Regions from separate parts of the Homo sapiens genome. Here region 2 is linked to region 1. Evidence: fine-mapped expression QTL. A gene starts in region 1. The other region holds a variant in brackets. All regions are shown on one strand. Distances are between the middles of the regions.

What was found. PIP is the estimated chance that this variant, and not a neighbour inherited with it, causes the effect. A credible set is the group of variants that fine-mapping cannot tell apart.
Region 2: its variant is the best candidate, but not a certain one, in a credible set for the expression of EXOC3L2 in whole blood (INTERVAL, PIP 0.88).

What each region holds. Positions count from the first base shown.
Region 1 is chr19:45,233,675-45,249,199 of GRCh38, reverse strand. EXOC3L2 (exocyst complex component 3 like 2) reads left to right here and starts at 3,793. Exons shown (of 12, transcript NM_001382422.1): 1 at 3,793-3,859; 2 at 10,139-10,677; 3 at 14,374-15,007. The coding sequence starts at 10,155. It also overlaps the pseudogene LOC100420902. RefSeq lists an enhancer at 3,103-4,099.
Region 2 is chr19:45,189,094-45,204,618 of GRCh38, reverse strand. It overlaps a transcript of BLOC1S3 not described here. Among named protein-coding and RNA genes, the nearest start is that of BLOC1S3, 18 kb to the right of the region's middle. The variant G/A (reference allele first, on the strand shown) is at 8,637.

The DNA.
Region 1 (15,525 bases):
ATAGCAGCAACCTCAGGCTGCTACTATTTTTATTTGTCAATTTGTTTATATTTATTTGTTATTTTAATGTTACTGCTAACAAATAAATGAGAATCTTTGAGTAAAGTGCTTCACAGGGGACCAGATTCAAAATTCATATGTGGGGACATTATTATTACTATTTGGCAAATATGGCCCGAGGAGCCTCAGGGACAGTGGCAGAGAGGGTGGAGTTCCGGGGTAGTGTTCTAGACGTACTGTGATCCCAGGGACGCCGCAGGGTGAAAGTGGGGGTCTTGGGGGTAGGCTAGAGGGGCTGAGCGCCCCCAACCCGTTCCCTGCATTGGCGCTGAGAGCTGCAGTTCTACCGTGCACCACACGGGGGCAGCCGATCACCTCCCTACACGCGCCCCACACACTCCAGGGTCCACCCCTGCCCTCCCTTCCCCAACAGCGTCCCCACCCCATTTCCCAGATGTGGGGGGACCGAGGCTTACAGAGAGGGAGGCTGCAAAGTGGATGAACCTTGAAAACAGCATGTGGCCGGGCGCGGTGGCTCACGCCTGTAATCCCAGCACTTTGGGAGGCCGAGGCGGGCGGATCACGAGGTCAGGAGATCGAGACCACGGTGAAACCCCGTCTCTACTAAAAATACAAAAAATTAGCCGGGCGCGGTGGCGGGCGCCTGTAGTCCCAGCTACTCAGGAGGCTGAGGCAGGAGAATGGCGTGAACCCGGGAAGCGGAGCTGGCAGTGAGCTGAGATCGCGCCACTGCACTCCAGCCTGGGCGGCAGAGTGAGAATCCGTCTCAAAAAAGAAAAAAAGAAAACAGCATGTTTAGCGAAAGAAGTCAGACGCAAAAGACCACTTACTGTATGCTTCCATTCATATGAAATATTCAGAATTGGCAAATCCATAGACAGAAAGTAGATTAATGGTTGCCAGGGGTTGGAGGCTGGGGAATGAGAAATGACTGCTGATGGGTACCAGGTTTCTTTTTGGGGTGATGAGAATGTTCTGGAATTAAATAGTGGTGACGCTTGCTGCAACCTTGTGAATATACTAAAACCTACCGGACTCTGTTTGAAAAGGGTGACTCTTATGTATGTGAATTGTATTTCAATAAAAAATAATAATAAAATTTAAAAAGGGGGCTGGACGCGGTGACTCACACCTGTAATCCCCGTACTTTGGGAGGCCAGAACGGGAGGATCACTTGAGCCCAGGAGTTCGAGACCAGCCTGGGCAACATAGTGAGACCCTGTCTCTAAATCAAAATAAAAAAAATAATTTTTAAAAAGGAGGGGGACGGGCACGGTGGCTCACGCCTGTAATCCCAGCCCTTTGGGAGGCCGAGGCGGGCAGATCACGAGGTCAGGAGATCGAGATCATCCTGGCTAACACAGTGAAAACCTGTCTCTACTAAAAAAAATACAAAAAATTAGCCGGGCGCTTGCAGGTGGCAAGCGCCTGCGTCCCAGCTACTCGGGAGGCTGAGGCAGAAGAATTGCTTGAACCCAGGAGGCGGAGGTTGCAGTGAGCAGAGATCACGCCACTGCACTCCAGCCTGGCGACAGAGCAAGACTCCGTCTCTAAATAAATAAATAAATAAATAAATAAATAAGGCGGGGTGGAAATCCTGCACGATCCCAGTACATGATGGGCCACTGCTGACCATGGGTCCGCGGTGCAGAGGCCGAGCTGGGGGGCAAGGCCTGTTCCTCTGCCTCCCGACCTGGTCATCCAGCTAGCCCTTCCTCCACAACCTATGTCTGGTGAATTCATTCCTTCAACTGGGGCATTCAGACCTTTGAATCTTAACCCTTGGATCCAGGAGGGAGCTGTGATCCCTAAGCCCAGCCCCCGATCCTAATGTTGACCCCAACCCTGATCCCAGCCTGGACTTTGCCTAGGCCAGTGATCACGCATCCCCCTCAGGCTGTGCCTGAGCACTTGAACACAGTTTATCTTATTTATTTATTTGTTTGTTTGTTTATTTGAGATGGAGTCTCACTCTGTCTCACAGGCCGGAGAGTGCAGTGGCACAATCTCGGCTCACCGCAACCTCTGCCTCCTGGGTTCAATCGATTTCTTCCGTCTCAGCCTCCCGAGTAGCTGGGATTACAGGTATGCACCACCACACCTGGCTAATTTTTGTGTTTTTAGTAGAGGCAGGGTTTCATCAGTTTGGCCAGGCTGGTCTCAAACTTCTGACCTCAAGCGATCCACCCACCTTGGCCTCCCAAAGTGCTGGGATTATAGGCATAAGCCACTGCAACCAGCCCAGTTTTATTTATTTAAAAAAAATTTTTTTTTTCTTAATTTTTGAGACAGGGTCTCTCTCTGTCACCCAGGCTGGAGCGCAGTGGCGAGATCATGGCTCACTGCAGCCTCCACCTCCCAGGATCAAGTGATCCTCCCACTTCAGCTCCCTTAGTAACTAGGACTACAGCGTGCCACCACACTTGGCTAATTAAAAAAATTTTTTTTTTTGTAGAGACGGGGTCTTGCTATATTATCAGGCTGGTCTTGATCTCCTGGGCTCAAGCAATCCCCCTGCCTTGGCTCCCAAAGTGCTGGAATTACAGGCATGAGCCACCACACATGGCCCTAGCCTTTTAAAGTAACCCTGACTCTCATACCCAACCCCACCCAGCACCAGCTCCAGCCCCAGCCCTCACTTCACTTGGCATCCCAACTCTAGCAGGAAGTCCATCTCCAAACCCACCTCCAACCCTCAGCTTCATTTAAATTCATTTAAATCTTGACTACTGAGGGCCAGGCACGCAGCTAGGCTTATAAAGATGAACAGGATCAACAAAGTGAGCTTTGCTGAGTTTATCTGCAAGGAATCCAGTTGCATCTGATAATTTCAGATTGTAGAAGGTGCAATAAAGAAATTGACAGGCTGGGCACAGTGGCTTACGCCTGTAATCCCAGCACTTTGGGAAGCCGAGGCAGGAGGATGGCTTGAGGCCAGGAGTTTGAGACCAGCCTGGAGAACCTAATGAGACCCGTGTCTCTACAAAAAATACAAAAATTAGCTGGGCATGGTGGTGCATGCCTGTAGTCCCAGCTACTCAGGAAGCTGAGGTGGGAGGATCTCTTGAGTCTGGGAGATCCAGGCTGCAGTAAGCTATTGTTACGCCACTGCACTCCAGCCTGGGCAACAGAGCAAGACTCTGTCTCAGGAAAAAAAAAAAGAAAAATAAATTGACAAAGCAGAGTGACGACTCTGTGAGACGGGACAGTGGAGAACAGAGGAAGAGACTGTGGGGCTGGAACTGGGATGATGAAAAGGAGGGCCTCATGCAGAGACCTGGGTACAGGGGCTTCTAGACAAAGAGAACCACAATTCCAAAGCCATGTCCAGTGCCCTCCTCCATAGGTCCCCCTCCCCAGCCCCTGGGCCCAGCAAAACTTCCCTCCTGGTCTTCAGCCCGTGGCAGGGAACTCTAGAGAGATGCGTGCCTGCCCCCCGGTTCTCATTCTAAGGCCTCGGGGCTTGCCCATGCTGGAGAGCAGCTCTGGGCTGGCGTCCAGCTTGGGGTGTCTCCCCGGGGCGCCCAGGATGGTGTTGTCACCTTGGGAGGCGTGAAGAGCATGCAGGAGTGGGCGGATTCCGGCCTGGAGCGGGGGTGAGGGTGGGGGCCCAGCTGTGGGCCTCGGCCTTCCCAGCCCAACCGCAGCCTGGCCTAAAAGGGCAGACAGATAATGAGTCCTTCCCGCCCCTGGCCCCAGAGAGGGAGGGGTTTCCTGACAGGAAATTGTCCTCCTCCGAGCACCCCCCCAACTCAGATCCAAGCTCCCAGCAGTCCTGGCTGAAGTAGCCTGGGGACAGGACAGCAGCGGGAACAGAAGGACGGGCAGGAGGACAGAGGTGAGTGTGCTGGGGACAGGGGGAAGGGGTCCCCCTTCCCCAGGGCAACTGGGAAAACAGTTGCCCTTAGTTGCACTGGACCAGAGCTGATGAGAACCTGTACCTTGAACCCAGCAGAGGCTGGGGGCAAAGAGAGAATCTGGGGCCTGACTCCAGAGGGGTGCTGGCGAGAAGGCAGAAAGGAGATGAAAATGAGAGGAGGGTGCAGGGGAGAATTTGAGGACTCGCGGGGTCCACAAAGGGTGCAAGGGAGCATTAGAAACCTTGGTGCCACCAAAGGAGAATAGAGATGAGATGACATTGGGTCGAATGTCCTGCGAGTCTGGGCGGGAAGACTGAGGCCAGGAAGGATCGGGTATTTGTTCTATCCCAAGAGATGGGGTCTCGGAGATGGGAGACAGGGACCAGGTAGGGATTGAGATCAAGCAGGAGAGACCGAGATCAGGTTGGGATTGGAGATGTGGATGAGCTTGCAGTGGTCTGGGCTGATGACAGGATTGTGTTTGGGGTCAAGGACTAGATTGGGGTTGCACTGGTTGGGGTTGGGCTTGGGGACATGCCATATGGAAAGACCGTTCTCTAATACAGATGCTGAGCGTTGGAGGTGATGGATTCCGCAAACCGAGGTCAGGGCCGCTGCAGAAGGTTAGGGACTCCGGGGAAAAGGCTGGCAGTGAGGAAGAGGAGGAGGGGCTCAAAGAGGGAAGCTCTGGTGGCCAAGACATCCTGCGGGCCTGAGAGGCTGGGGGCTTGAGGGATGCCTCGGAAGTGAGTCAGGGGCTGGGCACTGGGAGGCAGACAGAGGGTTGGAGGGGGCAGGATGTCAGCACCAGTTTGCAGAGGCGGGTGTTGGAGCCAGGAAGGGGAAAGACGTCGGAGACAGTTTTGGGAAAATGTTGCAGCCAGGTTTGGGGATGTTGGATCCAGTTTGGAGGCGATATTGAAGCCAGGTGGGGGAAAGTCAGATGTAGTCCGGGCAAGGTTGACTTCAATTGGAGGGAAATTCGAGCCTGAAATTTTGAGAGGAAGATGGAGACAGTTATGGGGTGGAGGGGGGATGATGGAGCCATTTTGGGATGAGGCATGTGGATGCCAGTTCAGAGGATGAAAGAGAAATCAAGGCTGGGTGTGGTGGCTCATGACTGTAATCCCAGCACTTTGGGAGGCTGGGGCAGGTGGATCGCTTGAACTCAGGAGTTGACCAACCTGGGCAACAGGGCGAAACCTCATCTCTACTAAAAATACAAAAATTAGCCAGGTGTGGTGACTTGCACTTGTACTCCCAGCTACTCGGGAGGTTGAGGTGGGAGGATTGCTTGAGCCTGGGAAGCAGAGGTTGCAGTGAGCCGAGACCATGCCACTGCACTCCAACCTGGGTGACAGAGTGAGACTGTCTAAAAAATAAAAGAGAAGGACAGAGTGCGGTGGCTCACACCTGTAATCCCAGCACTTTGGGAGGCTGAAACAGGCGGATCACAAGGTCAGGAGTTCGAGACCAGCCTGGCCAATATGGTGAAACCCCATCTGTACTAAAAATACAAAAATTAGCCAGGCGTGGTGGTGGGCACCTGTAGTCCCAGCTACTTGGGAGGCTGAGGCAGGAGAAATCGCTTGAACCCTGGAGGTGGAGGTGCAGTGAGCTGAAATCGCGCCATTGCACTCCAGCCTGGGTGACAGAGCGAGACTCCATCTGAAAAAATAAAATAAAATAGAAGAGAAATGAGTGTGCAAATAATGTGTGTGCATGGGGGAGTATCTATTGCACACAGCCATGGGGGCTCCAGGCAAGGGGTCGTCATGGTGACTGCCTCCTGTGGGGGCGGGGGCCCATGGAGACCGGAAGGAGGTCCGAGAGCGTTTCTAGGAACTGGAGGGTTGAGAAGCAGCAGCTCAGGGGTTGAAACAGGGAAAGAAAGAAGGGGCCTCCCCATCATGGAAAGGGGTGCTCTTACTCATAACCTAGGCAACCCAGGCCTTTTGCACACCACCCTCTTCCCAGGCCTCCTGTCCACCCCCGCACGTCTGCATAATCCTGACCCTGTCCTGACCTGCTCAGAACCCTGTCGTGGTGACAAACAAGCTACACGTCCAGCAATAGAAGAACAAGTGAACATCTGACCCTTTACACAATTCATATAGTGGAATATTACATAGCACTTAAATGAACTGGAGCTGTATGGCTAGACATGGATAAATTCTCACAAGTTCATAACGTGAGCAAAAAAATAAATTTTAAAGCAAGTTGCAAGATACAAATAGTATGATACCATTTATAGAGAGTTTGAAACCATGTAGAACAGTATATTATTTCTGGATACAAGTCTATGGAGCATGGGATAAAAATCTACTTGGACGGGTAAACAGCACATTCATTCTGGATGCTGGATTCCTTAGGAGAAGGCCAGAGCGAGTGGGACCAGGAGAGGTGGCAGGAGGAGGCTGCACGCATTTGTAATTCTTTTTTTTTTTTTTTTTTTTTGAGATGGAGTTTCGCTCTGTTGCCTAGGCTGGAGTGCAGTGGCACAGTCTGGGCTCACTGCAGCATCCGCCTCCTGGGTTCAAGTGATTCTCCTGCCTCAACCTCCCAAGTAGCTAGGACTACAGGCACCCGCCACCACACCCAGCTAATTTTTGTGTTTTTAGTAGAGGCAGGGTTTCACCATGTTTGCCAGGTTTGTCTCAAACTCCTGACCTCAGGTGATCCTCCCTCCTCGGCCTCCCAAAGTGCTGGGATTATAGGCGTGAGCCACTGCGCCTGGCTTGTTCTTTAAAACAAAAATCAGGGCAGTGGATGGTGGCTCACGCCTGTAATTCTAGTACTTTGGGAGGCCGAGGAGGGAGGATTGCTTGAGGCCAGGAGCAGGAGTTCCAGACCAGCATGGGCAATATAGCGAGACCCCATCTATAACAAAAAATTAAACAATAAAATTAGCAGGATGTCCCCGTTGCTTGGGAGGCTGAGGTGGGAGGATCGCTTGAGCCCAGGAGTTCAAGGCTGCAGCCAGCCATGATCACGCCTCTGCACTCCAGCCTGGGCAACAGAGTGAGATCCTGTCTCTAAAGACAAAAGCAACAACAAAAACCTGAACTAAGAGAGCAAATGATTGTGTGAGCTGTGGCTAGGATTGTAGGCACAGAAGTGTTTATTAAGCTTGTCTTCTGTACTTTTCCGAATGTTTGAACTATTTCATTGTTTTAAAAAGCACCTATCTGTGGCTCTGCAGGGCTCTTGGAAGAAAGCCTGTCCCTTATCAAGGAACTTAAAGCCCTGCGTGGCCTGCTCCCTAGTGACCTCTTCCAGCTCGACTCACCCTCCTCCTCCCCACACAAGGAATGAACTGTCTTGCCACTTTCCTTCCTTCATTTCCTGTTTAGCACCCATTCCCTGAGTGTCTGCCCTGTGCTGGGAGCTGGGGACACAGTGGTGACTGAGACAGCCCCAGCCCTGTCCTGCTGAGGTTTGCAGTCCAGTAAGGGACACAGATCTGTCCCCAGACAGGGATGACCCAGAGCAGGCAGAGGTGAGGTGTGGGAACCCAGGGACTGGGAGCCTGAGGGTCACAGAGGGCTTCCTGGAGGAGGGGGCATGGGGCTGAGTCCTGAAGTGTGAGTCCTGAAGTCCTGACTGGAGCATGGAGAACAGGCGTCTATGTAGAAGCACCAGCAGATGCTGAAACCTGGAGGTTCCTGGGGTAAGGAGGAGGCTACGGGACAGCACTAGTGACGTGTGCAGCTGCCAGAGCATGAAGGCTGTGGTGAGAGGCCTCAGCTTTGTCCTGAAGATACTAGGGAGCCATGGAAGGCTTAGGAGATGGAGAAGAGCAGGTTTGTGCTTTTTCTTTTCTTTTTTTTTTTTTTTTTTTGAGATGGAGTCTTGCTCTGTCGCCCAGGCTGGAGTGCAGTGGCGCGATCTCAGCTCACTGCAATCTCCGCCTTCCGCGTTCATGCCATTCTCCTGCCTCAGCCTCCCGAGTAGCTGGGGCTACAGGCGCCTGCCACTGCACCCAGCTAATTTTTTGTATTTTTAGTAGAGACGAGGTTTCACCATGATCTCGATCTCCTGACCTTGTGATCCGCCCGCCTCGGCCTCCCAAAGTGCTGGGATTACAGGCGTGAGCCACTGCACCCGGCCTGGTTTGCGCTTTTTCAAGGTCCTCAAAGGCGGACTGGAGGTGCCAAGACTAGAGGCTGGGGACCAGGGAGGAGGCCAGGGCAGGGAAGTGGGCAAGGGTTCCGCTTGGGGTAGGGGCTATGGGAAGTGAGTGAAAGGAGGGAGCGCAGACTGAAGAGAGGCTTAGGAGATGGAATGGGCAGGACTCAGGAAGCTGTAATGGCAGGGATGGGGGCTGCCCTGGCCACTGCTGTGTCCCTAACGCCTGCACAGGGCTGGGCCCATGGCTAATACCTAGTAAGTTGTTTTGTTTTATTTTATTTTTTGAGACTGAGTCTTGCTCTATTGCCCAGGCCAGAATGCGGTGGTGTGATCTCAGCTCACCGCAACTTCTGCCTCCTGGGTTCAAACAATTCTCCTGCCTCAGCCTCCCGAGTAGCTGGGATTACAGGTGCATGCCACCACGCCCGGCTAATTTTTTACTTTTTTTATTTTTAGTAGAGACGGGGTTTCACCATGTTGGCCAAGCTGGTCTCGAACTCCTGACCTCAGGTGATCTGCCTGCCTCCACCTCCCAAAGTGCTGGGATTACAGGCATGAGCGACCACGCCTGGCCTTAAGCCATTTTAAAAGCATACAATTAAGTGGCACTTAATGCATTCACAGTGTTGTACAACCATCACCTTTATCTAGTTCCAGAGTGTCTTCCTTTCCCCAAAAGGAAACCCTGCATCCATTAGCAGCCACTCGCCATTCCCCGTTCTCTCCAGTCCTATTGTCAGTCTCCTTTCTGTCTCTAAGGATTTGCCTAGAGACCTGCGAGGTGATTTGCACCTGTAATCCCAGCACTTTGGGAGGCAGAAGTGGATAGATCCCTTGAGGCCAGGAGTTTGAGACCAGCCTGGGCAACATAGCAAGACCCTGTCTCAATAAATAAATAAATAAATTAATTAATTAATTAAGTGGGCATGGTGGTACACACCTGTAGTCCCAGCTGCTGAGGAGGCTGAGGTACGAGGATCATTTGAGCCCAGGAGTTTCAGGCTGCAGTGAACTATGATGGGGCCATTGCACTCCAGCCTGGGTGACAGGGTGAGTCCCAGTCTCAAAAAAAAAAAAAAAAAAAATTAGGCTTTGCCTATTCTAGACATTTCCCAATAAGTTTTTGCTGAAGAGATGAATGAGGGAGAGATGACAAGGGTACAAATCAAACAGGAGAAATGAAGGGGATGAGGGGGTGTAGGCAGGTGCTCAGGAGTCTGCCCTGGACGTCTGGGTGGATGGTAGGGCCTGAGTCCCCATATCATCTCTGCCCTTGACTGACTGTGTCATCTTGGGAGGGAGCCTTCCCCCCTCTCAGCCTGTTTCTCCACGGAGTAGGAGGATCAACTTAAGATAGAGAATATTCCAGGCCAGCAGAGGTGGCTCACTCTTGTAATCCCAGCACTTTGGGAGGCTGAAGTAGGTGGATCGCCTGAGTCAGGAGTTCAAGACCAGCCTGGCCAACATGGTGAAACCACATATCTACTAAAAATATAAAACTTAGCCTTGTGTGGTGGCGCGCGCCTGTAGTCCCAGCTACTCCGGAGGCTGAGGCAGGAGACTTGCTTGAACCTGGGAGGCGGAGGTTGCAGTGAGCCGAGATCGTGCCACTGCACTCCAGCCTGGGTGACAGAGTGAGTGAGACTCCATCTCAAAAGAAAAAAAAAAAAGAGGCAAGGCGCGGTGGCTCACGCCTGTAATCCCAGCACTTTGGGAGGCCGAGGCAGGTGGATCACAAAGTCAGGAGATCGAGACCATCTTGGCTCACACAGTGAAACCCCGTCTCTACTAAAAATACAAAAGTTAGCCGGGCGTGGTGGTGGGCGCCTGTAGTCCCAGCTACTCAGGAGGCTGAGGCAGGAGAATCGCGTGAACCCGGGAGGCGGAGCTTGCAGTGAGCTGAGATCGTGCCACTGCACTCCAGCCTGGGCGACAGAGCGAGACCCCGTCTCAAAAAAAAAAAAAAAAAAAGTCCCCATCTTATAAGCTTGTGCAGATCAAGGGCTTATTAAGTGCTCAGGCAAGTGTCTGGTACGCTCACCCCAAAGTGCTCGGTACACAGAGGCACCGTCATCCATACCACCATTGTCATCAGCATCGCCCATGGTCATTATTTTTTTCCCCAGGTCCCCACCTGTCAAAATGCCTATCCTGAAGAATCTGGGAGTGTCAGACCCTAAGGTGCCCCGGGCGGGGACCCTGCCCCTGAGGTCCTCTCGGAACCCCTTTGAAGAAGTTTCAGGGCTGGAGGAAGAAGAGGCCGGGGAGCTGGGGTCCCTCCCCAATGGAACATCTTGTCGCCGCCGCGCCACCCTGGAGAAGCTTGCGGGCCTGGCCCCCTTCCGGCTGGGCTGGGCCCCGGGCCGGCGGGCAGGCAGCCCTGGGGATGGGCAGCCCCGCTCTTTCTTGGGCCGTGTGCTGGTACCAGGGATACGCAGGAGCTCAGCAGATTTTGGCCTCCTGGCCCGGCTGCATGGGACCCGAGCCCACGGCGACGAGGAGGCAGCGGGGGAGGCCGCCCGGAGACTGGCCTTCCTGAGACTGGGGCGTGGATCCAAGCCCCAGCGTGCGTCCCTGGCTGAGAGAGTGGTGCCTGCAGGCGAGGCAGCTCCAGAGCCCCCACCCAAGGTCCCAGAGCCCCCAAAGATGAAGGAGCCATTGTCAGGTGAGTCCGGAGCCCTGACCCTGTCCTGGGAGAATCCCAGTGCCCATGTCCATCCCCAGCCCTGGTGGTCCCAGGCTTCATACTTAAGCCCATCCCAGCTACCACCTGTGACCCCGACCTGCAATTCACATGTCTAACTCACATCTCCCACCTCCATGCCAGCTCCAACCCATTACCACTGCAGTCCTAATCCCTGTCGTCAACCTTTCTCTTCAGTGCCACCTGTTAATATATGCCCACCCTCAATCTTTGCCTCCTCCACCTGCCGTCTTCAGCCCTACTCCCATGTCTAAAGCCAAGGGAATACCTGATTTTGGTCCCATCTCTCCCCCTTCTCTTTCTATCCCCAATTTCTTCAATTTCTTTATTTTATTTATTTTATTATTATTATTTTTTTGCCTCTGTCGCCCAGGCTGGAGTGCAGTGGTGCAATCTTGGCTCACTGCATCCTCTGCCTCTGGGGTTCAAACAATTCTCCTGCCTCAGCCTCCCGAGTAGCTGATATTACAGGCATGTGCCACCTGGATAATTTTTGTACTTTAGTAGAGGTAAGGTTTCATCATGTTGGCCAGGCTGGTCTCAAACTCCTGACCTCAAGTGATCTGCCTGCCTCGTCCTCCCAAAATGTTGGGATTACAGGCTTGAGCCACGGCGTGTGGCCAATTTCTCCTTTTTATGAGGACACCACTCACATGGGATTCGGGTCTGCCCTATGATCTCACTTTAATTTGATTGCCTCTGTAAAGACCCTATTTCCAAATCAGGTGACATTCTGATGTACTGGGGTGAAGACTTCACATATCTTTTTTTTTTCTGGGGGGACGTAATTCAATCCCTAACACCACCCTGTCTTCATCCTCAGTCCCCATTCCTACTCCAAGCCCCAGTGTCTTCCTCAGTGCCTTTTCTGTTCTCACCCCACACTTATTCCAAGCCCACCATCAGTCTCTATCTGAGACACATCCGTATGCTTCTCGTACAGCTCATCCTTTCCTCCAAATGCCATCTAGTTTTGGAGACAAGGTCTCGCTCTATCACTCAGGCTAGAGGCTAGAGTGCAGTGGTGCAATCATGGCTCTCTGCAGCCCTGACCTCCTGGGCTCAAGCAATCCTCCCACCTTAGCCACCAGAGTAGCTGGGACTACAGGCACATATGATCACACCTGGCTAATTTTCACATTTTTTGTAGAGATGGGGGTCTCGCTATGTTGCTCAAGTTGGTCTTGAACTCCTGGCTTCAAGTAATCCTCCTGCCTCAGCTTCTCAAAGTGCTGGAATGACAGGCATGAGCCACTGCGCCTGGCCTAAACGCCATCTTTAATGTCATTGTCTATGTCCAACACCATGGCAACCCCCAACTGGTCCAGCCCCGTTTCATATCCCATTCTTCCCCATGTTCACCTTCCACCCTTTTAAACTCTTTTGGTCTCACTCTTAACCCCCAACCCCAGGCCCCTCTCAGCACCCACCTTCCACCCATTTCCCTCTGGCGACCTCCTTTTTTTTTTTTTTTCCTTTGAGACAGGGTCTCACTCTGTTGCCCAGGCTAGAGTGCAATGGTACAATCTCAGCTCACTGCAACCTCCGCTTCCTGGGTTCAAGCGATTCTCCTGTCTCAACCTCCTGAGTAGCTGGGATTACAGGCATGCATCACCATCCATGCCTGGCTAAATTTTTTTTGTATTTTTTGTAGAGATGGGGTTTTGCCATGTTGGCCAGGCTGGTCTTGAACTCCTGATCTCAGGTGATCCACCCGCCTCAGCCTCCCAAAGTGCTGGGATTACAAGCATGAGTCACCGCACCTGGCCATCAACCTCCTTATTCAGTCCTATTTGAGTTCCTAGTTCTTCCTCAGCCCCCAGTTTCAATTCCAACTCCAAACGCAACCTCCTCTTCATCCCTAATCTATCTTCACCCCTATCCTGAGTCCCAGTCCTAAACCCCCATCCCCAACCTCCATTTTCAATTCCATCCATGTTCCTATTCCCAAGCCCAACTCACTTCCACAATTCATCTTCAAACTCACATCAATCTTTTTTTTTTTTTTTTTTTTTTTTGAGATGGAGTCTAGCTCTGTCATCCAGGCTGGAGTGCAATGGCAAGATCTCAGTTCATTGCAGCCTTCGCCGCCTGGGTTCAAGCAATTCTCCTGTCTCAGCCTCCTGAGTAGCTGGGACTACAGGAATGCACCACCATGCCTGGCTAATTTTTGTATTTTTAGTAGAGACCAGGTTTCACCATATTGGTCAGTCTGGTCTTGAACTCCTGACCTCAGGTGATCCGCCCACCTTCCAAAGTGCTAGGAGTACAGGCATGAGCCACCGCACTCGGCCTTCACATCAATCTTTATGTCCTTTCCATCCTCAGCTTTCACCTACATTCCCCTCCCCCACCTCTCCAACCTCATCCCTACCCAGACCCCAATGTCATTCTTGCCTCTTTCCCATTTCTGTCCAGACTCCCACCTGACCTCATCCTAACCCTAAACTCCCTCATCCCAACCCCCACCTTCACCCCATCCTCACCTCCGGCCCTATCCCCATCCGTGTCCCAATCCCCATCTTAATTCACCGCCACCCCCAACCCTGCCTTTATCTCTGCTCCCGTGCCTGAGCCCGGCTTTTAGCCCCGAGGCCCGAACTGCTCCAGGGCTGGGGACCTCAGGAGAGCCTTTTCTGTCCTCTGATGCCCTCCACGTTCTGGCCAGAGGCTATTTCAGCCCCAGCTCCCTGGGGACTGGGAGGGCACTGGAGGGAGGTGAGGAGGGGGTGACTAGAGCCCCGCCTTCTGGAAACGGATGGGCAGAAATAGCGCTGGCCAGGAAATAGTTTCTCTGCCAGGGAGGAAGTGGAGGGGGGTGGAGGTGTCGAGGGTAACCCTGGGCTGCCAGGACCCTCCTTCAGCCTCAGAGGCCTTCCAGCCCGACTCGCCTTTCTCGAGGCAGTCTGAACTCATCAGAGGGCCAGATCAGCCCACAGCCATCCCCACCCCAAAAAGACCCCATCAGTGGTCCCATATCCTCTCCCCATCTCCAAGTCACCACCCTGCCCCTCCTACTCCCACCGGCTGCCTCCATCTCTCTCCCCCTTACGTGGCTCCTCTCTCAACCTTCTCGCCTCCTCCGACCCCTCCTCCATTTTTCCGCCCTGCAACCTCCCCAGATCCCCTCCTCAGTCACAGGCATTTTTCTTTTCCCCCTCTCTCTTTTTTATTTATTTATTTTTGAGATAGAGTCTCGCTCAACATGTTGCCCAGGCTGGGGTGCAGTGGCGCGATCTCGGCTCACTGCAACCTCTGCCTTCCGGGTTCAAGCGATTCTCCTGCCTCTCGAGTAGCTGGGATTATAGGTGTACGCCACTACGCCTGGCTAATTTTTGTATTTTTAGTAGAGACGAGGTTTTGCCATGTTGGCCAGGCTGGTCTTGAACTCCTGACCTCAAGTGATCCGCCGGCCTCGGCCTCCCAAAGTGCTAGGATTACAAGCATGAGCCCCTCACCCTGACCCCTCCCCTACATCCTTCACTCAACATCCTTCTTTCTTGCTCTTCTCCGGGCTCTTCTCTGCCCCCACACTTTCCCGCCTCCTGTAACCCTTTTCCCCTCATCTCTCTCCCCTTCCTAAGCACCCCCAACCCCGCGTCCGGCATCGCCCTCCTCCCCCCCGCGCACTGCTGACCTCCCGCTTTGCTCCCGCAGTGCTGGAGATCCTGAGCCTGATCCAGCAGCGCGAACTAGCGCGTGCGGACGAGCACATCCTGGAGCTAGAGGCCGAGGAGCTGGCGCCGTCGAGGGGCGGCGCGCCTGGGCCTCCCAAGGCCGAGGGCGCTGGCGGGGGCCGCCGGGCGCGGGACGTGGCGCTGCTGTACGAGGCCCTGCAGCGCGAGCTGTGGGCGCTGGTGCGCGAGACGCTGGCGGGCCCCGGGCCGGGAGCGTGCGCCGGGGCTGGCGCGGTGGCGCAGCTGGGCCAGGTGCTGGTACAGGAGGAGGCGGCCGACGGGCGTCGGGGTCCCGGGGCGGCCCGCAAACTACGCGCACGCTGGGCCGAAGCCGTGGCGCGCGCGGCCCGGGAGCGCCTAGAGGCAGCGGCTCCCGGGGCGCCCGGGGGCCTGGCCGGGCAGCTGGAGGCGCTGCGGGCGCGGCTGCTGGAGGATATGGCCGTGGTGCGGGGCCGCCTGGCGCCCGCCTACCCCGCCGGCCTGGGCGCCTTCGGCGTCTACCTGCGCGGCTACCACGGGGCCCTGGCCGAGTGGCTGGGGGCCTCCGCCCGTCGCAGGCTGCCGCTGGCCGACCGCTACGCGCTGCTGCACTGGCACAATCAGGTCTACCCCAGGTAAGCTGGACTCAGTTGCCCAAGGTCACGTGAAACCCTCAGCCCTACCCCCTAGCACTGGCTTCTTCAGACCTTAAGGACCTTGGGACAGCTGACCCTACAGTCCTAGCACTTTAACACCATTAACCCATCCAGTCGTCAGCACCGCTGACAGTTACAATCCTAGACTCTCACTGCTACCGAGGCTTCCGGTTCCAGCACCTTAGTACCATGGACGCTTGCAGTCCTAGAATAAGAGCTCCGGCACCACTGTGGTCCAAAAACCTCAGCGCTCTGTCAACACTTACACTCTAGATCGCCTCGCTGTCCACCCTTCCAGTCCCCGAATCTTAGCACCATTGATTCCTCTAGTCCTAGAACCTTTGCGTTGCTACTTTTCCGTTCCTAAAATCTCAACACCATTCATTCTTCTAGACCTACATACAACCTTAGCATCATCGACAGTTACACTCCTAGCATCTAAGTAACACTGATGCTTCCAGTCTTAGAATCCTAGCATTCCCACCCTTTCAGACCTA
Region 2 (15,525 bases), 45 kb after region 1:
TGAGATGTCAGACATGTAAGACGCCATCTTGGATTTCCAGCCCAGCTGAGCCTTTGGATGACTCCAGCCCCAGCTGCCATCTGAATGCAACTAGTTGAGAAACTCCACCCAATCATTGGCTCATTTGGCAGGGTGCAGTAGCTCACACCTGTAATCCCAGCATTTTGGGAGGCTGAGGCACATGGATCACCTGAGGTCAGGGGTTCAAGACCAGCCTAGCCAACTTGGTGAAACCCTGTCTCTACTGAAAATACAAAAAAATTAGCTGGGGCATGGTGGTGGGTGCCTGTCATCCCAGCTACTCGGGAGGCTGAGGCAGGAGAATCGCTTGAACCCAGGAGGCGGAGGTTTGCAGTAAACCGAGATCACACCATTGCAGTCCAGCCTGGACAACAAGAGCAAAACTCCATCTCAGAAAAAAAAAAAAAAAAAGGCAAAACAAAAATCAGCCGGGTGTGGTAGCCAGCACCTGTAATCCCAGCTACTCGGGAGGCTGAGGCAGGAGAATTGCTTGAACCGGGGAGGCAGAGATTGCAGTGAGCCAAGATTGCGCCACTGCACTCCAACCTGGGCGACATAGTGAGACTCCATCTCAAAAAAAAAAGAATCGACTGGTTAAACCCACTTAACCTACTGAACCATGAGATGTCATATTTGACTGCTATTTTAAGCCAATGAGCTTTTGGGGTGGTTTGAGATTTTGGGATGGGACTGCTATTTTAAGCCAATGGGCTTTTGGGGTGAGGTGCTACCCCAAAATGCCACCCCTCCCACATCTCCTGGCAGCAGTCAGATGGCAAGGAGAGAGAATCTGTGCATTTGGGGTAGGGAGAGCTCAGTGACTGATTTGAGGCTTTGCATTGGAACTCAGCGCTGTTCTATTACAGTGGAAAGCACCATGGGGCAGAAATCAGACACCACCCATGGAGGGAGCATTTAAATGATCATTAGACAGAGGGAAATCATCTATTCTAGTGGTGAGAACCTGAGTTCTGGCATGCCTAGCCACTGCGGGCCAAAGTGCTCTGGGACCCTAAATCAACTTGAGGCTGGGCGCGGTGGCTCATGCCTGTAATCCCAGCACTTTGGGAAGCTTAGGCAGGCGGATCACGAGGTCAGGAGTTCGAGACCAGCCTCACCAACATGGTGAAACCCCGTCTCTACTAAAAATACAAAAATTAGCTGGGAATGGTGGCGCACGCCTGTAATCCCAGCTACTTAGGAGGCTGAGGCAGGAGAATCGCTTGAACCCAAGAGGCAGAGATTGCAGTGAGCCGAGAGCACGTCATTGCACTCCAGCCCGGACAACAGCAAGACTCCATCTCAAATAAATAAATAAATAAATAAATAAATAAACTTGAAAGGCAGTCAGGCCACAAGGACTGCAATTTCTGGGCAAGTCCTGGTGCCTTGCTGGGCTCAGAACAAGTGGACCTGGAGGGCATGAGGCCCACTGAGACATTGGCTGAGGCAGCCAAGGGAGTGCTTGAGCCCCCGAGCCCCAAACCCCAGGCAGTATAGCTTGCAGTTCCGGGAGAGACTCCTTCCTTCTGCTTGAGAAGAGGAGACGAAAAGTCAAGAGGTCTTTGTTTTGCAACTTGGATACCAGCTCAGCCATAGGAGGATAGGGCACCAGGCGGAGTCCTGAGGCCCCCATTCCAGGCCCTAACTCCTGGATGACATTTTTGGACACACCCTGGACCAGAAGGGAAGCCGCTGCCTTGAAAGGAAGGACCCAGTCCTGGCAGGATTCATTACTTGCTGACTAAAGATCTCTTGGGCCTTGAATAAACATCAGTGGTTGCCAGAGAGTGCTCGCCGCAGGCCTTGGGTGAGACCCAGTGCCGTGCTGATTTCAGGTGTGACCCAGCGCATTCCCAGCTGTGGTGGCCCTGGGGAAAGACTCCTGCTTGAGGAAAGGAGAGGAAAGAGTAAAGGAGACTTTGTCTTGCATCTTGGACACCAGCTTGGCCACAGTAGGGTAGAGCACCCAGCAGCTGCTGGCATCCCCAATTGAGGTCTTGGCTCTTGCACAGCATTTCTGGACCTGCCCTGGGCTAGAGGGGAGCTGTCTTCCCTGAAGGAAAAGACCCAGGCCTGGCAGCACTCACCACAAGCTGACTGAAGAGGGCCTGGGCCTTGAGTGAACATCAGCAGTAGCCAGGCAGTACCTGCCATGGGCCTGGAGCAGTGGTGGCCACAGAGAGAGACTCCTGTGTGAGGAAAAGTGAGGGAAGAGTGGTGTATTAGTCTGTTTTCATGCTGCTGATAAAGACATACCTGAGACTGGGTAATTAATAAAGAAAAAGAGGCTTAATGAACTCCCAGTTCCACGTGGCTGGGGAGGCCTCACAATCATGGCAGAAGCTGAAAGGCACGTCTTTTTTTTTTTTTTTTTTTTTTTTTTTAGATGGAGTCTCACTCTGTCACCCAGGCTGGAGTGCAGTGGCACAGTCTGGGCTAACTGCAAGCTCTGCCTCCCGGGTTCACGCCATTCTCCTGCCTCAGCCTCCAGAGTAGCTGGGATTACAGGCGCCCAGCTAATTTTTTGTAGTTTTTAGTAGAGACGGGGTTTCACCATGTTAGCCAGGATGGTCTCGATCTCCTGACCTCATGATCCACCCGCCTCGGCCTCCCAAAGTGCTGGGATTACAGGCGTGAGCTGCCATGCCTGGCCAAAAGGCACGTCTTACATGGTGGCAGGCAAGACAGAATGAGAACCAAGCCAAAGGGGTTTCCCCTTATAAAGCCATCAGATCTCATGAGACTTATTCAATACCACAAGAACAGTATGGGGGAAACTGCCCCCATGACTCACTTATCTCCCACTGGGTACCCCCTATAACATAGGGGAATTATGGGAGCTACAAATCAAGATGAGATTTGGGTGGGACACAGCCAAACCATATCAAGTAGGAAAGACTTTTTCTTGTGGCTTGGGTGCCAGCTCAGCCACAGTAGAATAGAGCACCAGGTAGATTCCTAAGGTTTCTGTCTCCAGGCCCTGGCTCCCAGATGGCATTTCTGGACCTGCCCTGGGCCAGGAGAGAACTCACCATCCTGAAGGGAAGGACACAAGCCCGGCAGGCTTCACCACCTGCTGGCCGAAGAGCCCTTGGGCCTTGTGTGAACATTGGTGGAAGCCAGGTAGTGGTTGCCACGGGCCCTGGGTGAGACCTAGTGGTGTGTTGGCTTTGGGTCTGACCCAGTGCAGTCCCAGTGGTGGTGGCCACAAGGGTACTTGTGTCACCCCTCCAGCAGCCCCAGGCAGCTCCGTACAGAGATAGAGAGACTGCGTTTGTTTGGAGAAAGTAAGGGAAGAGAAGAGTTTCTGCCTGGTAATTTAGGGAATTCTCCTGAATCTTAACCAAGACCACTGAGGCAGTACCTCTAAGATTCCTTTTTTTTTTTTTTTTGAGACAGGGTCTTACTCTGTCGCCCAGGCTGGAATGCAGTGCTGCAATCTCCACTCAGTGCAACCTCCACCTCCCATGCGCAAGTGATTCTCCCGCCTCAGCCTCCCAAGTAGCTGGGACTACAGGCGCCCACCCCTACGCCTGGCAAATTTTTGTATTTTTTGGTAGAGACAGGGTTTCACCATGTTGGCCAGGCTGGTCTCAAACTCCCGACCTCAGATGATCCGCCTGCCTAGGCTGCCCAATGTGCTGGGATTACAGGCGTGAGCCACTGCGCCTGGCCAGCACCTCTAAGATGCTGCAAGAATCACAGCATTACTGAGCCTGGGGTGCCCCCTAATGCAGATACAGCTGCAGTGACCAAAAGTTTAGTTCACAACACTCAATTTCCTGGCAAGCCTTCCCAAGAAGGATGGGTTCAAATAAGCTCAGACTACAAAGACTACAATAAACACTGAACTCATCAATGCCCAGCCATTGACGAACATCCACAAGCATTGACACCATCCAGGAAAACATGACCTCACCAAGTGAACTAAACAAGGCTCCAGTGACCAACCCCATTGTGACAGAGCTATGTGACCTTTCAGACGGAGAATTCAAAACAGCTGTTTTGAGGAAGCTCAATGAAATTCAAGATAACACAGAGAAGGGATTCAGAATCCTATCGGATAAATTAACCAAACAGATTGAAATAATTTTTAAAAATTAAGCAGAAAGGGGCTGGGCACGGTGTCTCACACCTGTAATCCCAGCATTTCGGGAGGCCGAGGCAGGTGGATCACGAGGTCATGAGATCAAGACCATCCTGGCTAACACGGTGAAACCCCATCTCTACTAAAAATACAAAAAAATTAGCCAGGCGTGGTGGTAGGCGCCTGTAGTCCCAGCTACTCGGAAGGCTGAGGCAGGAGGATGGCATGAACTCGGGAGGTGGAGCTTGCAGTGAGCGGAGATCGTGTCACTGCACCCCAGCCTGGGCGACACAGCGAGACTCCGTCTCAAAAAAAAAAAAAAAAATTAAGTAGAAAAAATTCAACTGACACACTGAAGAATGCATCAGTCTCTGAACAGTAGAATTGATCAACCTGAAGAATTGGTGAGCTCAAAGACAGGCTATTTGAAAATATGCAGTCAGGCCGGGCACAGTGGCTCATACCTGTAATCCCAGCACTTTGAAAGGCTGAAGTGGTTGGATCACCTGAGGTCAGGAGTTTGAGACTAGTTTGGCCAACATAGTGAAATCCTGTCTCTACTAAAAATAGAAAAATTAGCTGGGCATGGTGGTGCATGCCTGTAATCCCAGCTACTCAGGAGGCTGAGGCTCCAGAATTGATTGAACGCAGGAAGTGGAGGTTGTAGTGAGCCAAGATTGCAGCACCACTGCACTCCAGCCTGGTCGACAAAGTGAGACTCTGTCTCAAAAAGAGAAGAGAAGAGAGGAGAGGAGAGGAGGAGAAGAGAAGAGAAGAAAGAAGAGAAGAGAACAGAAGAGAAGAGAACAGAAGAGAACAGAAGAGAAGAGAAAAGAGATGAGACAGGACAAGACACAGCCAGAGGAGACAAAAGAAAAAATAAAAAAGAATAAAGGCCAGGCGCAGTGGCTCACACCTGTAATCCCAGCACTTTGGGAGGCCGAGGCAAGCGGATCACGAGGTCAGGAGTTTGAGACCATCCTGGCCAACATGGTGAAACCCCATCTCTACCAAAATACAAAAAATTAGCCAGGTGTAGTGGCAGGCACCTGTAATCCCAGCTACTCGGGAGGCTGAGGCAGGGGAATTGCTTGAACCCGGGAGGCGGAGGTTGCAGTGAGCCAAGATCGTGCCACTGTGCTCCAGCCTGGAGACAGAGCAAGACTCCATCTCAAAAAAAAAAAAAAAAAAAAAAAAAGAATAAGGCACACCTACAAGATCTAGAAAATAGCCACAAAAAGGAAAAATCTGAGTTTTATTGGCCGTAAAGAGAAAGTAGAGAGATTGGAATAGAAAGTTTATTAAGTGGGATAATAACAGAGAACTTTCCAAACCTAGAAAAAGATATCAATATTCAAATACGAGAAGGTTATAGAACACTAGGCAGATTTAACCCAAAGACTACCTTCAAGGCATTTAATAATCAAACTCCCAAAGATCAGGGATAAAGAAAGGGTCCTAAAAGCAGCAAGAGAAAAGTAACAAATAACTTACAATGGAGGCCGTGTGCAGTGGTTCACGTCTGTAATCCCCAGCATTTAGGGAGGCTGAGGCGGGTGAATCACTTGAGGCCAGGAGTTACAGACCAGTCTGGGCAACATGGTGAAATCCCGTCTCGACTAAAAATACAAAAAAAATTAGCCAGGCATGAGGCCAGGCGCAGTGGCTCACACCTGTAATCCCAGCTACTCGGGAGGCTGAGGCACGAGAATCGCTTGAACCTGGGAGGTGCAGGTTGCAGTGAGCCGAGATTTCGTCACTGTACTCCAGCCTGGGTGACTGAGTGAGACTCTGTCTCAAAAACAAAAACAAAAACAAACATACAATGGAGCTCCAATACGTCTGGCAGCAGACTTCAGTGGAAACCTCACAGGCTAGGATAGAGTGGCACGACATATTGAAAGTGATGAAGTTGGCTGGGTGCGGCGGCTCACGCCTGTAATCCCAGCACTTTGGGAGGCTGAGACAGGTGGATCACCTGAGGTCAGGAGTTCAAGACCAGCCTGGCCAACATGGCGAAACCTTGTCTCTACTAAAAATACAAAAAAGTTAGCTGAGCGTGGTGGCGGGTGCCTGTAATCCCAGCTACTTGGGAGGCTGAGGCAGGAGAATTGCTTGAACCTGGGAGGCGGAGGTTGCAGTGAGCCGAGCTCGCACCACTGCACTCCAGAGCCTGGGCAACAAAGCAAGACTCTGAAAACAAAACAAAACAAACAAACAAAAAAACCCCTTCCCCATATGGTTCTAAGTTAGAGTTGGCCAAAGGAGAAAATTGCATGAAAACTGGAAGAAAGAAGTTTAGCACAGTATTTTTCTTGGACGGTTGCTCTATTTAGATGGGGGAAAAGACAGATGTAGATGCATTAGGGGGTTCCCATTTGCTCTCGCTCTGCCCTGCAGGGTGAGACAGATGCAAGTGTTCGGGACCTTGTTTCCCCCACACTCCTGTTTATCTCTTCTCAATTTTCTGCCCTGCTAACCACCAGTGACCTCGGGCTCAACATCAGATGCAGAGGCAACAGCCTTCCATGACTCTGATAGTTGGATATGCCTGACTTCCCAGATTTTCCTGCAAACTCTGACTTGTTCCCCTGTCTAGTGCTTCAGGAGGGCTGGCTAGAGATTTTTCATGGACTCCCTAACTCTCCTTTCTAGATCTTTTTTTTTTTTTTTTTTTTTTTTTGAGACGGAGTCTCGCTCAGCCACCCAGGCTGGAGTGCAGTGGTGCAATCTTGGGTCACTGCAACCACCATCTCCCAGGTTCAAGCAATTCTCCTGTTTCAGCCTCCTGAGTAGCTGGGATTACAGGCACCCACCATCATGCCTGGCTAATTTTTGTATTTTAGTGGAGACGGGGTTTCACCATGTTGGCCAGGCTGGTCTTGAACTCCTGACCTCAGGTGATCCACCCGCCTCGGCCTCCCAACGTGCTAGGATCACAGGGGGAGCCACCACACCCAGCCTCTAAATCTTCTTTTTTATTCTTTTTCTTCTTCTTCTTTTTTTTTGGTGGTTGTTGTTGAGACAGAGTCTCACTCCATTGCCCAGGCTGGAGTGCAGTGGCACAATCTCAGCTTACTGCAAACTCCACCTCCCGGGTTCAAGTGATTCTCATGCCTCAGCCTCCTGGGTAGCTGGAATTACAGGCACCTGCCACCACACCCAGCTAATTTTTGTTTACTTTGTAGAGACAGGGTTTCGCCATGTTGCCCAGGCTGGTCTTGAACTCCTGAGCTCTAGCAAATCTTCCCACCTTGGTCTCCCAAAGTGCTAGGATTACAGGTGTGAGCCACCGCACCTGGACTTCTTTTTCTTTTTTTGAGATAAGGTCTCACTGTGTCACCCAGGCTGGAGTGCAGTGGCACGATCATAGCTCACTGCAGCCATAAGGGAGTAAAGGAAAGAACACCCCTCAGCCCCCTCCACTCCCAGCATCCCACCCACCTGCTGAGGTCCCACTTGGGTCCCTGTGCCCAGGAAACCCCGTGGGCCCCTGTGGGACCATACCCCCTGCAAGAAGCCATGGCTTCTGAGCACTTCCCCACTCAAACTCTTCTGAGTCACTGATCTCTCTCAGACACTTTCCTAAAATTGATTTTTTTTTTTTTTGAGACAGTCTTGCTCTGTTGCCCAGGCTGGAGTGCAGTGGCCCCATCTCGGCTCACTGCAAGCTCTGCCTCCCAGGTTCACGCCATTCTCCTGCCTCAGCCTCCCACGTAGCTGGGACTACAGGCACCCGCCACCATGCCTGGCTAATTTTTTGTATTTTTAGTATTTTTAGTAGAGACAGGGTTTCACCGTGTTAGCCAGGATGGTCTTGATCTCCTGACCTTATGATCCACCCGCCTCGGCCTCCCAAAGTGCTAGGATTACAGGCGTGAGCCACCGCTCCCGGCTAAGAGTTTTTTCCTTTTCAATTCTCTCACTTACCCAAAGACCCCTGCCTCCTGCTCATCAAATTCACTCCCATCTCCCTAAATTCCCTCAGGAATATTCCCCTAGCACCTCCTCCTTGGCAGGCTCAGTGCTGTGGGACACTGAGGACCACCCAGAGGGGTCAGACCTACCCTGACCTCAGACCTCCTAGCTCAGCCTCACCTGGACCATGGACACCATGTTGCATTATATTTGAGACAGAGTCTCGCTATGTCACCCAGGCTAGACTGCACTGGTGCGATCTCAGCTCACTGCAACCTCCATCTCCTGGGCTCAAGCAATTCTCGAGCTTCAGCCACCCAAGTAGCTGGGATCATAGGCATGTGCCACCATGCCTGGGCAACAGAATGAGATCCTGTCTCAAAAAAAAATAAAAAATTAAAAAATAAAGTAGCACCTAACAGAATTTAAAATGTACTCACCCTTTGACCCAACAACTCCACATCTGGAAATGTGTTTCTTTCCAAGATACCCATACATGTGGGAAATGAATATATTCAAAGATATTCTTTGCCACACCATATGTAGTCACAAACAATAGGGAACACCCTGAATGATCATCAATAGGGGAATGACTAGCAGATGGCTT[G/A]GTCACCGTATAAGTAAACAGAATGGCTCAGCTGTTTTTCATTCTGATTAGAATGCTCTCCAAGACATATGACTACTTGAAAAAGGCAGGCTGGGCACGGTGGCTCACGCCCGTAATCCCACCACTTTGGGAGGCCAAGGCGGGTGGATCACCTGAAGTTGGGAGGTCGAGACCAGCCTGGCCAACATGGTGAAACCTTGTCTCTACTAAAAACACAAAAATTAGCCAAGCGTGGTGGTGCACACCTATAGTCCCAGCTACTCGGGAGGCTGAGGCAGGAGAATCACTTGAAGCCAGGAGGCGGAGATTGCAGTGCACTGAGGTCATGCCATTGCACTCCAGCCTGGCCAACAAGAGAGAAACTCTGAGGAAGGAAGGAAGGAGGGAGGAAGGGAGAGAGGGAGGGAGGGAGGGAGGGAGGGAAGGAGGGAGGGAGGAGAACAGTAGGCTTCCATGTAAATTAAATATACATTTGTGGCTGGGCCCTGTGGCTCATGCCTATAATCCCAACACTTTGGGAGGCCAAAGTGGGCGGATCACTTGAGTGCAGGAGTTCAAGACCAGCCTGGGCAACATTCCAAAACCCCGTCTCTGGTAAAATTACAAAAAGTAACTGGGCATGGTGGTGTGAACCTGTAGTCCCAGCTACTCGGGTGGCTGAGGTGGGAGGACTGCCTGAGCCCAGGAGGTCTAGGCTACAGTTAGCCATGACCATGCCACCGCACCTTAGGAAGGTGGCAGAGTGAGACCCTGCCTCAAAAAGAATAAAAAATTGGCCAGGCGCGGTGGCTCACACCTGTAATCCCAGCACTTTGGGAGGCAGAGGTGGGTGGATCACACGAGGTCAGGAGTTCAAGCCCAGCCTGACCAACATGCAGAAACCCCATCTCTACTACGTGCTGGCGCATGCCTGTAATCCCATCTACCGGGAGGCTGGGGCAGGAGACTCGCTTGAACTGGGAGGCGGAGATTGCAGTGAGCTGAGATCATGTCATTGCACTCCAGCCTGGGCAACAAGAGCGAAACTCCATCTCAAAAAAAAAAAAAAAAGTATAACACACATACCAGAGTTCACAAATTTTTAGTGTGAACACAAATCTTTAATTTCCACCCCTATGAAGAAATACAATATTGACAGTGGCTCAGATGCAACCCTTCATGCAGTCATTACCCCTTGCCTCCTCCCCAATTAACTGCTGTCCTGACCTTCAACACCCCTAGCATGGTTTTGCCTGGTTCTGACTGGAGATAAGTGGAATCATACGGTATGTGCTCTGGCTTTGTTGGTGGAACATTATGCTTGTGAGATACATTCATGTTGTGTACAGCAGAAGGTCATTCGTGTTCATTGCTATAATGTCTGTTGTATGAATGTAGCATGCTTTACTTACCCAGTCACCAATGGATTGACATTTAGATTGTGTCTAGTTTGAAGGTACAAACAATTTATCTAAGCACACTGTCTTTTGGAACACATATGTGCTCATAATAAACAAGAGGGAAATAAATGGAACGATCGCGGGTGTATTAGTCTGTTTTTATACTGCTATAAATAAATACCTGAGAAATTGGCTGGGCGCGGTGGCTCATGCCTGTAATCCCAGCACTTTGGGAGGCTGAGGCAGGTGGATCACCTGAGGTTAGGAGTTCGAGACCAGCCTGACCAATATGGTGAAACCCCATCTCTACTAAAAATACAAAAATTAGGCAGACATGGTGGCACAGGCCTAAAATCCCAGCTACTTGGGAGGCTGAGGCAGGAGAATTGCTTGAACCTGGGAGGCAGAGGTTGCAGTGAGCTGAGATCGTGCCACTGCACTCTAGCCTGGGCGACAAAGTGAGACTCCATCTCATTAAAAAAAAAAAAAAAAAAAAAAAAAGGCCAGGCGCGGTGGCTCACACCTGTAATCCCAGCACTTTGGGAGGCCAAGGAGGGCGGATCGTGAGGTCAGGAGATCGAGACCATCCTGGCTAACACGGTGAAACCCCTTCTCTACTAAAAATACAAAAAAATTAGCTGGGCGTGGTGGTGGGTGCCTGTAGTCCCGGCTACTCAGGAGGCTGAGGCAGGAGAATGGCATGAACCTGGGAGGAGGAGCTTGCAGTGAGCCGAGATCACACCACTGCACTCCAGCCTGGGCGACAGGGCAAGACTCCATCTCAAAAACAAAAACAACAACAACAAAAAAAAAACAGAAAAAATGGAATAGAAACTTCAGTGACTACACAGCAAAAGGAATACACATTTTGCAAAAACAGTTTTAAAAAGTCAAACAGATGGCTCTAGCCCTTGACAAGCAAAACCCAGCAATCTCCAAGGAAAGGGTGAATCCAATTTCAATAATTAACATATTATAATACTCCAAAAGTCCAATTTTCAACAAAAATACTACAAAACATACAAAGAAACGGGCAAGTATGGCTTATTTATAGTAAAAAAAAGTTCTTTTGACAGAGACCATCTCTGAGGAAGCACAGACATTGGAATTACTAGTCACAGACATCATCGACTGTCTTAAATATGCTTTATGAGCTAAAGGAAACCATAGACAAAGAATAAATGGAAATCAGGAAAATGATATACAACCAATATACAAACAACATGAGAAAATCAATAAAGAGATAGCAATTATGAGGAGGCAGGGGAAGATGGCTGAATAGAAGCCTCCAGTAATCATCTCCTTCAGAAGAACAACCAGCTGAACAACTATCCACACAAAAAAGCACTTCATAAGAACCAAAATCAGGTGAGCGAACACAGTACCTGGTTTTAACTTCATATCACTGAAAGAGCCACTGAACGGGGTAGCAAAAATAGTCTCTTTTTTTTTTTTTTTTTTTTTTTTTTTTGAGACGGAGTTTTGCTCTTGTTGCCCAGGCTGGAGTGCAATGGAGTGATCTCGGCTCACAGCAACCTCCGCCTCCTGGGTTCAAGTATTCTCCTGCCTCAGCCTCCTGAGTAGCTGGGATTACACGCGTGTGCCACAACACCCGGCTAATTTTGTATGTTTAGTAGACACGGGGTTTCACCGTGTTGGTCAGGCTGGTCTCGAACTCCTGACCTCAGGTGATCTGCCTGCCTCAGCCTCCCAGAGTGCTGGGATTACAGGCGTGAGCCACCACGCCTGGCTTGAAATGTCTTCCTCACACTGGAGGAGATAAGCGGGAAGAATAAAGAGGTCTTTGTTTTGCACCTTGGATATCAGCTCAGCCACCGTAGGATAGCGCACCAAGCAGGGTCCTGAGGGCCCCATTCCAGGCTCTAGCTTCAAGGCGATTTCTAGAAACATCTGGGCCAGAAAAGAAACTGCTGCCTTGAAGGAAATAGCCCAGTCCAGGCAGGATTCATTACCTGCTGACTAAAGGACCCTTGAATAATCAGCAGCAGTACCCAGGCAGTACTCCGTGTGGGCCTTGAGTGAGACTCAGAGACACACTGACTTCAGATATGACCCAGCATATTCCCTGACGTGGTGACTACGGGGAGAGGCTCCTACTGCTCAAGGAAGCGGGAGGGAAGAGTAAAGGGGCCTTTGTCTGGCAGCTTAGTTACCAGCTCGGCCACAGTGGAGTAGAGCACCAAGTTGGCTCTTGGGGGTCCCTGATTCCAGGCCTTGGCTCTTGGATGTCATTTCTGGACCTACCTTTGGCCAGAGGGGAGCCCACTGCCCTGAAGGGAGAGACCCAGGCCTGGCAGCCTTCACACAAGCTGACTGAAGAGACCTTGGTCCTTAAATGAACACCGGCAGTAGCCAAGCAGTAGCTGCCATGGTCCTGGGGCAGTGGTGGCCACAGGGAGAGGCTCCCCTGCTTGCAGAAAAAAGAGTGGGGAAGATTTTGTCTTGTGGCTTGTGTGCCAGCTCAGCCACAGTAGAACAGAGTACCAGGTAGAGTCCCTAAGGTTTCCAACTCCAGGCCCTGGCTCCCAGATGGCATCTCTGGGCGCACCTGTGATGGGGGGCTCACACCACACTGAAAGGATGAACACAAGCCTGGCTGGATTTGCCGTCTGCTCCTCACAGAGCCCTAGGGCCTTCAGTGGACATAGGTGGTACCCAGGCAGTGCTGACCACGGGCCTTGGGGGAGACCCCGTGTTGGGCTGGCTACACGTCTGACCCAGCACAGTCCCAGCACTGGTGGCCACAGCAGTGCTTGTATCACCCTTCCCCCAGCTCCAGGCAGCTCAGCACAGAGAGACTCCATTTGTTTGGGAGAAAAGGAAGAAGACAAGAATCTCTGCCTGATAATCCAGAGAATTCTTCCAGATCTTATCCAAGACCACCAAGGCAGTGTCTCTACAAGTCTCCAAGGGCCACGGCATTCCTGGGCTTGGGGTGCCCCCTGATGCAGATACAGCTGCAGTGACTAAAGACTTAGATCGCAACACAAAAGTCTTTTCAATACCTGGAAAGCCTTCCAAAGAAGGATGAGTACAGACAAGCCCAGACTGTGAAGACTATAATAAATACCTAACTCTTCAGTGCCCAGAAATGTATGAACATCCTCAGGTAACAAAACCATCCAGGAAAACATGACCTCACCACAGAAACTAAATAAAGCCGGCCGGGCACAGTGGCTCATGCCTGTAATACCAGCACTTTGGGAGGCCGAGGCGGGCAGATCACCTGAGGTTGGGAGTTCAAGACCAGCCTGACCAACATGGAGAAACCCTATCTCACTAAAAATACAAAATTAGCTGGGCGTGGTGGTGCATGCCTGTAATCCCAGCTACTCGGGAGGCTGAGGCATGAGAATCGCTTCAACCAGGGAGGCGGAGGTTGTGGTGAGCCGAGATCGTGCCATTGCACTCCAGCCTGGGCAACAAGAGCAAAACTCTGTCTCAAAAAAAATAAAAAAATAAAATAAAAAATAAACTAGGCTGGGTGTGGTGGCTCACGCCTGTAATCCCAGCACTTTGGGAGGCCGAGGCGGGCGGATCGTGAGGTCAGGAGATCGAGACCATCCTGACTAACATGGTGAAACCCCGTCTCTACTAAAAAAACAAAAAATTAGCCGGGCGTGGTGTCGGGTGCCTGTGGTCCCAGCTACTCAGGAGGCTGAGGCAGGAGAATGGCGTGAACCTGGGAGGCAGAGCTTGCAGTGAGCCGAGATTGCGCCACTGCACTCCAGCCTGGGCGACAGAGCAAGACTCTCTCTCAAAAAATAAAATAAAATAAAATAAAATAAAATAAAATAAAATAAAATAAAAGCATCAGTGACCAATCATAGAGAGACAGAGATACGTGACCTTTCAGACAGATAATTGATTAGCTGTTCTGGGGTTGGGTGCAGTGGCTGGCGCCTGTAATCCCAGCATTTTGGGAGGCTGAGGTGGGCAGATCACTTGAGCTCAAGAGTTCGAGACCAGCCTGGGCAACATGGCAAAACCCCGTTTCTACAAAAAAAATACAAAAATTGGCCAGGCATGGTAGTGTGCACCTGTGGTCCCAGCTACTCAGGAGGCTAAGGTGAGAGGATGGTTAGAGCGCAGGAGGTGGAGGTTGCAGTAAGCCAAGACTGTGGCACTGCACTCCAGCCTGGGTGATAGAGCCAGATCTTGTCTCAACAAGAAACAAACAAACAAAAACTATATATATGGGTGGGGGAGAGAGAGAGAGAGAGAGAAGGAGGGGTCTGTTTTGAGGAAACTCAACAAAATTCAAGATAACACAGAAGAAATTCAGAATTCTATCAGATAAATTAAACAAAGAGATTGAAATAATTAAAAGAATCAGGCAGAAGTTCTGGAGTTGAAAAATTCAATTGACAAACTAAAGAATGCATCAGAGTCTCTCACCAGCAGAATTAATCAAGCAGAAGAAAAAATTAGTGGCTGGGCATGGTGACTGATGCCTGTAATCCCAGTACTTTGGGAGGCCAAGGCAGGAGGGTCACTGGAGCCTAGGAGCTTGAGACGAGGCCAGGTTACATAGCAAGACCCCTTTCTCTATCTTAGAAAAAGAAAAAAAAAGAAATAATTAGTGAACTTGAAGAAAGGCTATTTGAAAATACACAGAGGAGACAAAAGATAAAAGAATAAAGCATACCTACAAAATCTAGAAAATAGCCTCAAAAGGACAAATCTAAGAATTACTGGACTTAAAGAGGAGGTAGAGAGAGACAGAGGTAGAAGGTTTATCTAAAGGAATAATAACACAGAACTTCCCAAATCTACAGAAGGATATCGGTATTCAAATGTAAGAAGGTTATAGAACACCAAGCAGATTTAACCCAAAGAAGACTACCTGCCGGGCGTGGTGGCTCACGCCTGTAATCCCAACACTTTGGGCGGGCGGATCACCTGAGATCGGGAGTTTGAGACCAGCCTGGCCAACATGGAGAAACCCCATCTCTACTAAAAAATACCAAAAAAAAAAAAAAAAAAGCCAGGCTTGGTGGCACATGCCTATAATCTCAGCTATTCGGGAGGCTTAGGCAGGAGAATCACTTGAACCTGGGAGGTAGAGGTTGTGGTGAGGTGAGATCGCACCATTACACTCCAGCCTGGGCAACAAGAGCGAAACTCCGTCTCAAAAAAAGAAAAAAAAAAAAAAGAAGACTACCTCAAGTCCTTTAATAATCAAACTCCCAAAGGTCAAGGATAAAGAAAGAATCCTAAAAGCAGCAAGACAGAAGTAACAAATAACATTCAATGGCGCTCTGGCTGGGTGCAGTGGCACATACTTGTAATCCCAGCACTTTGGGAGGCCAAGGTGTGTGGATCACTTGAGGTCAGGAGTTTGAGACGAGGCTGGCCAACATGGTGAAACCTTATCTCTATTAAAAATATAAAAATTAGCCAGTGGGGTTGGGGAGGTGGCAGAGGAGGGGATGGATGGTTAATGGGTACAAAAATAATAATTAGAAAGAACAGCCGGGCACAGTGAC